3 linked regions of the Homo sapiens genome follow. The protein of the gene in region 2 purifies or fractionates together with the protein of the main gene of each other region. This does not show direct contact. Each region holds a gene or a part of one and is shown on either strand. Other genes may lie near its edges.

Region 1 (3,726 bases), on a different chromosome or scaffold from region 2:
TTTTTTGAGATGGGTTTCACTCTGTTGCCCAGGCTGGAGTGCAGTGGCACAATCACAACTCACTGCAGACTCTACCTCCTGGGCTCAGGTGATCGATCCTCCAACTTCAAACCTCCCAAGAGGCTGGGACTACAGGAGTGTACCACCATGCTCAGCTAATTTATATACATTTTTAGAGACAGGGTTTCACCATGTTGCTGAGGCTGGTCCCAAACTCCTAGGCTCAAGAGATCCACCCACTTCAGCTACCCAAAGTGCTAGAATTACAGGCATGCGCCACTGGCTGATTTTTTTTTTTTTTTTTTTGAGACGGAGTCTCACTCTGTTGCCCAGGCTGGAGTGCAATGGGTGCAATCTCGGCCCACTACAATCTCCACCTCCCAGGTGTTCAAGTGATTCTCCTGCCTCAGCCTCCTAAGTAGCTGGGATTACAGGTGCCCACCACCACGCCCAGCTAATTTTTGTATTTTTAGTAGAGATGAGGTTTCACCATGCTGGCCAGGCTGGTCTTGAACTCCTGACCTCAGGTGATCCACCCGCCTCGGCCTCCCAAAGTGCTGGGTTTATAGGCGTGAGCCATCACGCCCAGCCCCAGCTGTACTTATAAATGTAACATATATGCTAGTAATTCAAGTCACAGATCAACTAGAAATTTCCTATAAAATTGACTTTAACCCCAATTAAATAAAAAAGGGGGCCTGTTATTTATACTCACAAAAATGAGAACTGAGGCAGTTATTGAGATTAAAGAAAAAAGATAGTTGTTGAAGAATATAGAGGTTTTGCTTAAATTATATTGCTTACTTCAGAGTTTCCTAGGATAACTACTCACCTCTCATCTTAATTTTTTTTAAGGTAAGATGAAAAAATCTTGTTATTCTTCCAAAACATTTTTGAAGATTTTTGATTTTTTTTAAGTTGTCAAAATATGTAACATATGCTGCTGGTTACTTAAAAAAAAATTCTGAACTGTAGGAAAATAGTGTAATAAACTCAAGTAAAACCAAGAGTTTTTATTCAGTGGACATAGGAGAAATCCACAAATCTATTTAAATAGATTGCACAGTGTCAACACTATCAAACAATTTCTAGCATCAGGACAAAGGATATTGTTAAGCGGTTCTTACAAAACACATACAGTTAGAAATGTAATTAAAGTGATTCTAAGTTTGAAAAAAGATAAAAATAAGTAACTCTAAGTAGAAATAATGTCAAGCTTTTGATTCAATAGTTAGCTGAAGTTAATTCATTTCAAGATAGCACTCGTCTCAAATTATTTCTGAATCAGAATGGTTATCTATTATAAAGTAAAAGGCTTAACTGCTATAAAGCCTTTGAAAATGTACATGAGGCTGGGTGCAGTGGCTTACACCTGTAATTCCAGCACTTCAGGAGGCCTAGGTGGGCAGACTGCTTGAGCCCAGGAATTTGAGACCAGTCTGGGTAACATGGTGAGACCCTGTCTCTCAAAAAAACAAAAAAACAAGAACAAAAAATTAAAAAAACAGAAAAGAAAATGTATGTGGAAATCTAGCAGTCTCAGAGATCACACATAGATGAGTTCTATTTCTTCAGATAGCTATGCTGTCTTCCATTCCTATAGGCCAAATGAAACTATAAATACTACTTAAATATAGTACATAACTTCGCTTTTGTATTCTTTTTTAGTTTACCTCATAAAAGTTGCTACAGGGGCTGGGCGCGGTGGCTCATGCCTGTAATCCCAGCACTTTGGGAGGCCAAGGCGGGTGGATCATGAGGTCAGGCGTTCGAGGCCAGCCTGGCCAACATGGTGAAACCCTGTCTCTACTAAAAATACAAAAAATTAGCCGGGCATGGTGGTGTGCGCCTGTAATCCCAGCTACTCGGGAGGCTGAGGCAGGAGAATTGCTTGAACCTGGGAGGCAGAGGTTGCAGTGAGCTGAGATCGCACCACTGCACTCCAGCCTGGGCGACAGAGTGAGACTCCGTCTCAAAAAAAAAAAAAAAGTTGCTACGGGATGGTAGAAAGGGCATTAGACTAGTTTCTCATTCTGGCTCTGCCACTGACTAGCTTGGTCACCAGAGGCAAGTCACTTAATTTCCCTAGGCCTTAGTTTCCTATATGCTGGACGAGGAAGCTGGAGCTGGCTAGATAGTGGTTGATCTACGGCTGGTGACTCTTCGTAGTATAAAATACCTAAACAGAAGCTGGACATGGTAGCTTACATCTATAATTCTAGTACTTTGGAAGGTCAAGGCAGGAAGATTGCTTGAGCCCAGGAGTTCACAATTATAGTGAGCTATGATCATGCCACCGCATTCCAGCCTGGACAACACAGCAAGACCCTCTCTCTAAAACAAAACAAAACAAACAAAAAATAAATTCCTAAACAATTGAGTTCCTCACAACATAAAATTTGTGTTCTCTAATTTCAAGTTTACTTAGCATAAGGTTTTAGCAATACACATTTACTCCATGTCCCCTCCACAGTTGGAAGACTCAACAAATTTCAAGACAATCAAGGGTTAATTCATGTGTTAATGACACTAATATAACAATGACTTAGGCCTATCTTCAGTTTTGCCCATTAATGGAATCAAAATTCAAAAATGGAAAGGCAAGAAATTTGAGAAAAATTCCTGCCTTTGTAAACAGAAACCTCAACCAAGGGCAAATATCTAATGATTGAAGGATCAGCATTATTAACTCAGATTTCTTTGACACCTAGTTTGGTTCTGCATTTTTCCCTTTGTACTATTTTGGTATGAAGGCTCTCTCTTCATGGTAAGAGAAGCTGCTGACTATACTACTATAACATTACAATGTGCAGTCGATATCTTAGGAGAATTAGTAGACACCTGGACAACTTTTAAACTTTCCATTTTTCAATGATCACTGATAAAACATCAAGGCTAATTTAGTTATTTAGAAACAATCAATAGTATTTAACACTCTATTGGGGGAAAAAAAGGATGGCAGAAATCACCAAAAAAAAAAAAAGTTGTAAAATATGTTGAGTAGATAAGCTGGCATCTGTTCTCAGAACTTCTCATCATAGGCAAGATTTATTTTCTATTCTGTATCACGAAGTGATAACCTTTCTAACTATATGGCACTCTTTGTACTCTTGCAGCATTTTATTCTATCAGAGTAAGTGAAGACTATGAAGAATGTTCTCAGTGCATCTCAATTTTTTTTTACAATCTTAGTCTCTAGTATACCAATGAGTTATTATTTTTAAAGATTCTCAGATATTTGATCAATTGTATACTTGCTAGATCAGCTTTAATTTTCAAAATATCTATGTTTCCAGTTTTGGTGAAAAAATATTTCTCAATGTCTTTTTCTTCTGTTAACTTATATCAACCACCTCTACTAAACGATTAATACGTCTTTCTTTTTGGGGTTCTGTTATTGAATGAACACCTGACACTCGCAGGTGATTTCTATTAGCTGTGAAAAAAATCACATCAGAGCCAATTTTTGGCAAATTTACATATAAATTAGAAGCCTACTGAATGAAAAGGTTTTCTAAGATTAATAAGATGAAAGCAAAGTAGCAGTTTTTTCCTACCAGGCATCATCAAGTAATGAAATGTCTACTGAAGTAGAATGTCCGTATAACTAAAGTTTTTATGTTCAGGTACTGAGACTTATTTTAAGCATTTTAAATACATAGGTCCAAAATGTTTATATAATTATGTAACTTGTTAAACATCCTTGGACATAAAAACTTTCCCCTG
Region 2 (3,500 bases):
AAGCAGGTTCAAGAAACAAACTCCTGTTTGTTTGCCTCTTGATGGTTCAGAAACATTCAGCTGCTTTCACCTCTAGGACAAATGCTTAAGAATTTACTCTCATCAACATTGGAACTTTACGAAAACAGGATTCCTGGTTCATCAGAAGCCTGTATTAATGAAAAATGCATTTTGTTCTTTAGTGCTTAAAAAAAAAAGAAACTCATCTACTTTTTTGCGGAACTTTTTTTGGGATAGCCATTCCTCCTATGGATAGTCATCAGCAAGACACCTAAAAGACATGTTTTCCCTAGTTCTTATCAAAAATTCATCTCACAGAAAAAGTCATTCAAGAAAGCAAAACTTTGCTTTAAGTAGATAAAGTACTGTTTATATGCATTAAACCAAGCAATCCACTCAGGGTTTTAACGGTGTAAAAACTAAATCACAGTACAGCTGAACAGTGAATGGATGGGATGGTTCTGATGAGGTATTATTTTGACATTTTGGTCTCAGAAGGTGTTTCCCCAGTATCCAATGTCTTCAACAACCGGAAAAGACCAGCAGCTTCTCGTATCCTACTGAATTCAATACAGAATGCCTGCACTTCTATAAACAAATCCTGTACATTAATAATTTTGTTACGGATCAAGGATTGGAGAAACACACACACAAGACGCACCAACCGATTCTGAAAAAGGAAAAAAAAAAATGTTAGTCTGCTCATTTTCCTGGCAGCCATTTATAAAATTTACAAAAATTTATATTACCTGCATATATTTATCCTTAATCTGTTCACAAGTAGAGATGCAATTTGATATATAAAGGTGAATAAATTCAGGAGGTAGATCAACAGCTGTAGTTAGTCTGTTTCGTAAAAGAAAATTTGGCCCATTAATTTCATTTGCTAACATTGAGAAACACTGTTAACCATAAAATACAAAATTTGCTTTGGTCATCTGGTGGAATTTTCTGACATATCCAATTCCCTAGTTTTAAATATACTTGGGCAAATTAACCTAAGAGCCATACCTACTTACTCATAAATAACACTGTTTAAAATGTCTCTACTTACATTTACATATCGCAATTATTTTTTTGAGCCCTGTCCCTGAGTATTCTTGGTTAAATCCTAAGTCATGGTCTGTTATTGGAATTTAGAGTCATAATAAAGGCCAAAGCCAGTATTTTCCAAAGGATTACATGGAATGTTTTAATGAGAAAAACGAGTGGGGTGGGAACAGGAATTCCGTACTCAAAGTATGAATTTCCAAAAGAAGATTAATATATGCTGCCTTTTCTAAACTTAACAGACCTCAAAACTTTTTTCAATAAGGCATGAGGATGTAGTGCTCCAAGGACACTGTCATGAGCTGCTGCAGTCTCTTGAGATTTGTGCGTCGCCAAAAAACGTGTTTCACGTTTAAGGATGATGCACTATGATAGGTATCGGGGGAAAACAAACAGGACCTTGTCCTTGAATTCCAAGATACTGAGCAGATAGAATCACATTGATAAAAAGATGTAAGTGATTCTGCATCTTGGACTCAGGGCCAAATGTCTGGTAGAGACAAGAACTGCTATAAGAATATGGTGAAAGGGAAGTGAACACTCAGCGTGGTCAATCCGGAGGACCTGCACAGAACTGGGCCACTGAAAAGAGTGAGTCTTCACTCAGTAGGGGAAAGACTGGAACAAAGAGGGGGGAGATGTGCAGCAGCACGTTTTCAACAAGCAGCTAGCCGGTTTTGCCAGTGACCACGGTTAAAGTTAAAAATTAATTTGGAAACCTCACATTTCCTCCCTCTGCTACCGCTAAAAGAACGCACTCTCCTTCTATGCACGTACTTCCACTCCCTCAGCTTCCAGCTGGGCTTTTTTTCCCCCAATAGTTGATGAAAAAAGGACACATTCTGTAGTTCAATTTCACATAGATTTTTTCAAAAAGCCCCAACTTACAAACAGGTGTTCAAAAACTATGCTCTCCAGTACTGAAGTTTAGTTGCTTGGCACTCAGAATGGATTTCCCCATACAGGAGGACCATATAATTTATCATCCAAAACAGGATACCACGTGAAAGGGAGCTCAGGATGCAAAGCCTCCACCAGGACTCTCAGGCACACCTGAACCTCTGGCCACCCTGCACATAAACAACTTAAGCCCTCCAGCCCATCTAATTCACAATTTACCTAAAAGATATTTGTAAGGAAAATACTCTAAAATGCAAACACTGTACAGCACACATCAAGAAGGGAAGATGTTCTGTTTTCCTGACAGTCAAGGATGGCAGGGTCAGGAGCCTGGGGGTCAGAAAGGCTGGGAGAAGAGCACGAGGAAGCTAGGACAGCATTCCTAGGATTCTCAGCTCTTAAGGTCCATATTTTTCCACACTTACAGCTGTTAGTCACTAAGAAAAAATAGTATCTATATTTGTATAGGGATAAAGAAGACAGGACTATGTATAGGGAAATAAATTTCAGCAATTGGCTGGCACACTGGCTCATGCCTGTAATCCTTGCACTTGGGAGGCTGAGGTGGGCAGATCACTTGAGGTCAGAAGTTCGAGACCCGCCTGACCAACATGGCGAAACCCCGTCTCTACTAAAAATACAAAAATTAGTCGGGTGTGGTAGCACACACCTGTAATGCCAGCTACTAGGGCGGCTAAGGCAGGAGAATTGCTTGAACCCAGCGGGTGGAGGTTGCAGTGAGCTGAGATCACGCCACTGCACTCTAGCCTGGGCAACAGAGTGAGACTCCCTCTCAAAAAAATAAATAAATAAAATAAATTTCAGCAATTAAATTTCATTTATGCTTCTACTAACACTAAATATGTTTGAAATCCTACCCTCAGTTCTTATTAACGCATGCTAAATTTACATGTAGTGAATGCTAAGGCTTACATTATTTCTTTAATAGTTAATCTTACGCCAATAATATCAAGACAAAAATCTGTTACAATTTTTCTTTCCTGGCCATCTAATCTGTATCTATCCCCACACATTTGATCAAATCTAGAAACTTACCGATTTACAACTTCCATTGAATGTAAAGACATGTCCATATTGACCAGGACAGAGAAATACTCAGTGATCTGGCTTGACTGCATTAATTTCAGCAACATTTCTATAGCGACTAAAGGGTTGTTTTCCACAAGGTCAGGAAGTTTGGCTGGGGTGAGGCCAATATGGTAGACAAGTTTGGGGTCTTTTTCCAACTCACCAAGTAGCTAAATACACCAGATTTTTAAAGAGAGAGAGAGGGAGAGAGAAAGGGTGTTGAGTCAATTTTTTTTCCCATGTATATGAAATAAGCATTTTATACAAAAAGCTACAAAACTATCTGCATTGAACCAACTTCATAAATTTCTTCCTTCAAACCCATGATGTCTTGACATTTCTAAATTTACATTTTAATTTTGAACAAACTAAAATGCAAACACATCTAAGACAGTTTATAAATATGCTAGTGATTCCTATTCCTGGGCATCAAACCAGACTCCACACTGTCTGGTCAGATA
Region 3 (3,826 bases), on a different chromosome or scaffold from region 2:
GGGGTTGGTCTGTAAGAGTAATGAGTTGGAGTGGATGGTGGAATTCTGAGGTTCTGAAGGGGGGTGCTGTAGTTGGGGGCGGTAGGGAATTGCGGGCCCTTCACTGAAGAGTGGGTGGGGCACCCAGGACTCCAGCTTTTCCCTTAAGACACCTTTGGTTTTCAGGACTCTGAAGAAGAAGAACTAGCCAGTACTCCCCCCAGCTCAGAGGACTCAGCGTCAGGATCCGATGAGTAGAAACGGAGGAAGGTTCTCTTTGCGCTTGCCTTCTCACACCCCCCGACTCCCCACCCATATTTTGGTACCAGTTTCTCCTCATGAAATGCAGTCCCTGGATTCTGTGCCATCTGAACATGCTCTCCTGTTGGTGTGTATGTCACTAGGGCAGTGGGGAGACGTCTTAACTCTGCTGCTTCCCAAGGATGGCTGTTTATAATTTGGGGAGAGATAGGGTGGGAGGCAGGGCAATGCAGGATCCAAATCCTCATCTTACTTTCCCGACCTTAAGGATGTAGCTGCTGCTTGTCCTGTTCAAGTTGCTGGAGCAGGGGTCATGTGAGGCCAGGCCTGTAGCTCCTACCTGGGGCCTATTTCTACTTTCATTTTGTATTTCTGGTCTGTGAAAATGATTTAATAAAGGGAACTGACTTTGGAAACCATGTCCTCATGCTTTCTTTGTAGCCTTGGTGTGTTGCTCCCACTTTTATTGGTGGTGTTTACTGCTCTGGTCAGACTGGGCAGGGCCTTCCTGGCCAGCCGGGAAGCAAGTCTCGAGGTACATCCTGTTCTGTTCCCGGCTGGACGAGCATTGGTTTTCACCCGCCTCTGCCCGGATGGGCCACCTGAGAGTCTAGAAATGAGAGCTGATCTGATTAGGAAGTTTCTCCCAGTTACACTCCATTAGCCAACCAAGCTAGGGGGAGGCAGCTCTTGGCTGCATCCTTACCTATGAGTCAAGGGTCTTCCAAGGCTTTCGATAATGAAATCAGGATTGACTGTCCTTCCCGCAGCCGGGGGAGTGGAAACCTGAGCCTGGAGAGTCGGGGAGGATGAGCGTGTGCGTAGAGTGGTGGTGGTTGCAGCCTGGTGGTGGTGCAACAAAGTACGGAGTTATATGTGAAGCTTTTGTTCTTACGGGAAGAAGGGGGTATACAAACTTCAGTGTAGGGAGGAACCCATGTCTGAGAAGGGGCCTAAAAGGAGATAAAGGTCACTAATGAGGAATGCAGAGCTGCCAGACTTCTTCACGGTGGCTCTAAATCTGAATTGACACAGGAGGGTGGCCACGTTGCGCGCGTTCTCAGCACTCAGGTGGTTGTATCAGGAAGCCGCTTCAGTCAGCCGGCGGCTACCTTCTTGCCGGCGTAGCTCGATGATACTGTGCTCTGTGCAGGCGGCGGAGCCCGGGAGGGGCCGCCAAGGCAGTTTCTCTAGGCAGTCGTCTCGGTGGCCATTTTACCCGAGCGCTCCCGGCTGAATTGCGTCAGTTTCGCCCCGGTCTGAGACTGGGGCGGGCCCCTCATCTGCAAGCCTCATGAATAATTGAGTGCTGGGCCGCGCCTGTTTGCCGACGGTGGGACGAATTCTGCACGGGCTTCCCACTCCCGGGTTCCAACCGGCTCATGCATATTCATGAAGCGCCCTGGGGGCGTGGACCTGGGCGGAGTTGGGGCGGGGCCCCGCCGGGGCTCGCAGTGGCTTCGTCCCGCGGTGACGGCGGCGGCGGCGGCGGTAGCAGCGGCGGCGGCGGCGGGGACTGGCATCGGGGCCCCGAGCCGAGCGGAGCCGGACCCCGGGCGAGCGCGTGAGTGCGCGGGGGCGGTCGGGCGAAGGAGGGGGCGGGGTCCGGGATGGGGCGGGGGAGGGGCATGGAAGGAGTGGGTGCTTTCCAGCCGACACCTCGGGTTGAGGTGGTGGTGGTCGGGGGGTCACCAGGAAAGTTTGCAGGGGCCGAGGGCGCTGGGGACGCTGGAGGCCCGGGGGAAGGTGGCGCGTGTGCGCGGAGGCGGAGGGCGCATGGCTTGGAGCTCGTGCTGGCAGAGCCAGAAGAAAGGGGGGAGGGGGCGAGGGCTTGGGGCGGGGCCGGGGGCGGGCAGAGCCGCTGGAGGGACCCCTGCCTCCCCTTCCTCCGGGCCGCGCTAGCCCCCTCCCCCGGCTCCTTCGGCACGCCCCCAGCCACCCCAGTCCGCCCCCACCTGATCGACGTCTGCAGCCCACCGTCTGTTCGCCGGCTGCTTCACAGCCCGCTCACAGGTCCTCCGCTTCTGCCGCCACCGCAGCCCCCTCCTCCTCCTCCTCTTCGGCTGCCGCCGTCCCTTCTGTGTCCAGAGCTCCCCACTGGGCCCCTCCAGACAGCCCATTGCCCGGGGCTGTTCCATCTTCCCGTTGGCCCTCCCTCTTTCCAGCAGTTTACGTGCTGTCCCTGCCGACCTCTCTAGCCTCGGATCCGGCTGGAGATCCTGGGGTCCATAGGGGCGACCCCGCCTGCGCCGAGTCCCCTCCGGGGCTGGAGCTGCCCAGCCCTTCTGGAGGCCTTATCTGCCAGGGGTCAGCTCGTTTCTACCCTGCTACCCTCTACCCCCTGGTCTCTTGAGGGTGGGGAGTGCTCAGAACCGCTGCGAATCGCAGCTTCTGGCCACAGCCTTGGTGGCCTTGGTCACCTGGGGCCCCTGGCTGGGGTCTCTGAGTTGCTGTGGCCACCTCCGCACCTGGGGACTCTGAGCCCGCCTTCATTGCTGCAGCCCCTCATACCGCAGAGGGGCCCATCAGAACCCCAGGTGAAAGGATTTTTTTGGTTCTGAGCCAATTAATTTCCATCTCCAACCACCCACACTATGTTCCTAGTAATAATGTTCAAGGACAAGGAAACAATCTTGTGTTTTAATTTTATTTTTTCTATCATGTGCCCCTCCCCCCACCACACTTGGCCTGGCTCTGCACAGTTATTCACCCACCCACAGTGGGCAGTCTTCCGTGGTGGTTAACTGACCAATGGGTTGACAGTACTGGGTTTCTCTACTGTCTTCATACCCTCTCCCATCTTTGAAACACCTGGGGCAGGGTCAGCGTTAGGGGAGGGGTGTTGGATTTTGCAGAGGATGAGCACTGGGGGTCCCTTTTAAGGATTTGGTGCTGTCTTCCCAGACCAGCTGGAGTGGGTGACTTTAAGTGAGGCAATGCCCCTTGCAGGTTGGAGAAGTTTGGGTTGTCCTCAGGGCTCTGCATACCAGGTGAGGGAAACTTCCGCCTTGCATGAGAGGTGCAGGGCCCTATCCCCCAGGGTCTCCATGTTTTTGTGGGTGGGAGAGTGCTTCAGGAGTCAGGATGGGAACTGAGGAGGTGGTTGGAGTATCTGAAGAACAGGTGACAGGACTAGGGCCTGGGAGAGTGAAGGAATGGTCTGGGAATGCTGGTAGCCTGGGGTCAGGGAAGAGGAGGAGGTGGTTATCAGGGATGTTAGCTCATTGGTGACACTGAATGGAATCACAGTAATAATAGGCAACATTTGTTGAACACTTATTATGTGCTAGGCATTGTGCTAAGCCTATTTCATGTACTATTTCATGTAAGCCCCCTCAGGGTCTCAATAATCCCATTTTTCAGTTGGAGAAACTGAGGCTTGGAGAAGTCACAGGGCTAGAAAGTGGTAGACCCACCCAGCACTGAATCTTGGTATATCAGATCCTGAAGCTCATGTGACAGGCTTCTACCACCAGGCTGTGCCTCTTGGTTTAATTTCTTCTGTCCCCCTCAGAACTCCTTAAAGCCAACCCTAGGCTGGTGAGTGAAGCCCACATAACCCCTTTTCATACATAGGCTGTGGCTG

What was found.
Region 1: the proteins of CNOT11 (region 2) and BTG3 purify together in Homo sapiens (co-immunoprecipitation; 3 studies listed by BioGRID and IntAct, with this or other methods). This does not show direct contact.
Region 3: the proteins of CNOT11 (region 2) and TNKS1BP1 purify together in Homo sapiens (affinity purification with mass spectrometry; 6 studies listed by BioGRID and IntAct, with this or other methods). This does not show direct contact.

Annotation. Positions count from the first base shown.
Region 1 is NC_000021.9:17,599,189-17,602,914, forward strand, and holds part of BTG3 (protein BTG3), read right to left. Parts: intron 1-3,726. UniProt on the Homo sapiens protein: Overexpression impairs serum-induced cell cycle progression from the G0/G1 to S phase.
Region 2 is NC_000002.12:101,266,386-101,269,885, reverse strand, and holds part of CNOT11 (CCR4-NOT transcription complex subunit 11), read right to left. Parts: exon of another isoform or gene 3,210-3,500; coding exon 3,007-3,209; intron 847-3,006; coding exon 750-846; intron 671-749; coding exon 473-670; 3' UTR 1-472. UniProt on the Homo sapiens protein: Component of the CCR4-NOT complex which is one of the major cellular mRNA deadenylases and is linked to various cellular processes including bulk mRNA degradation, miRNA-mediated repression, translational repression during translational initiation and general transcription regulation.
Region 3 is NC_000011.10:57,322,818-57,326,643, reverse strand, and holds the start of TNKS1BP1 (182 kDa tankyrase-1-binding protein), read left to right. Parts: upstream 1-1,691; 5' UTR 1,692-1,804; intron 1,805-3,826. Other genes in the region: FACT complex subunit SSRP1, read left to right, coding at 166-237.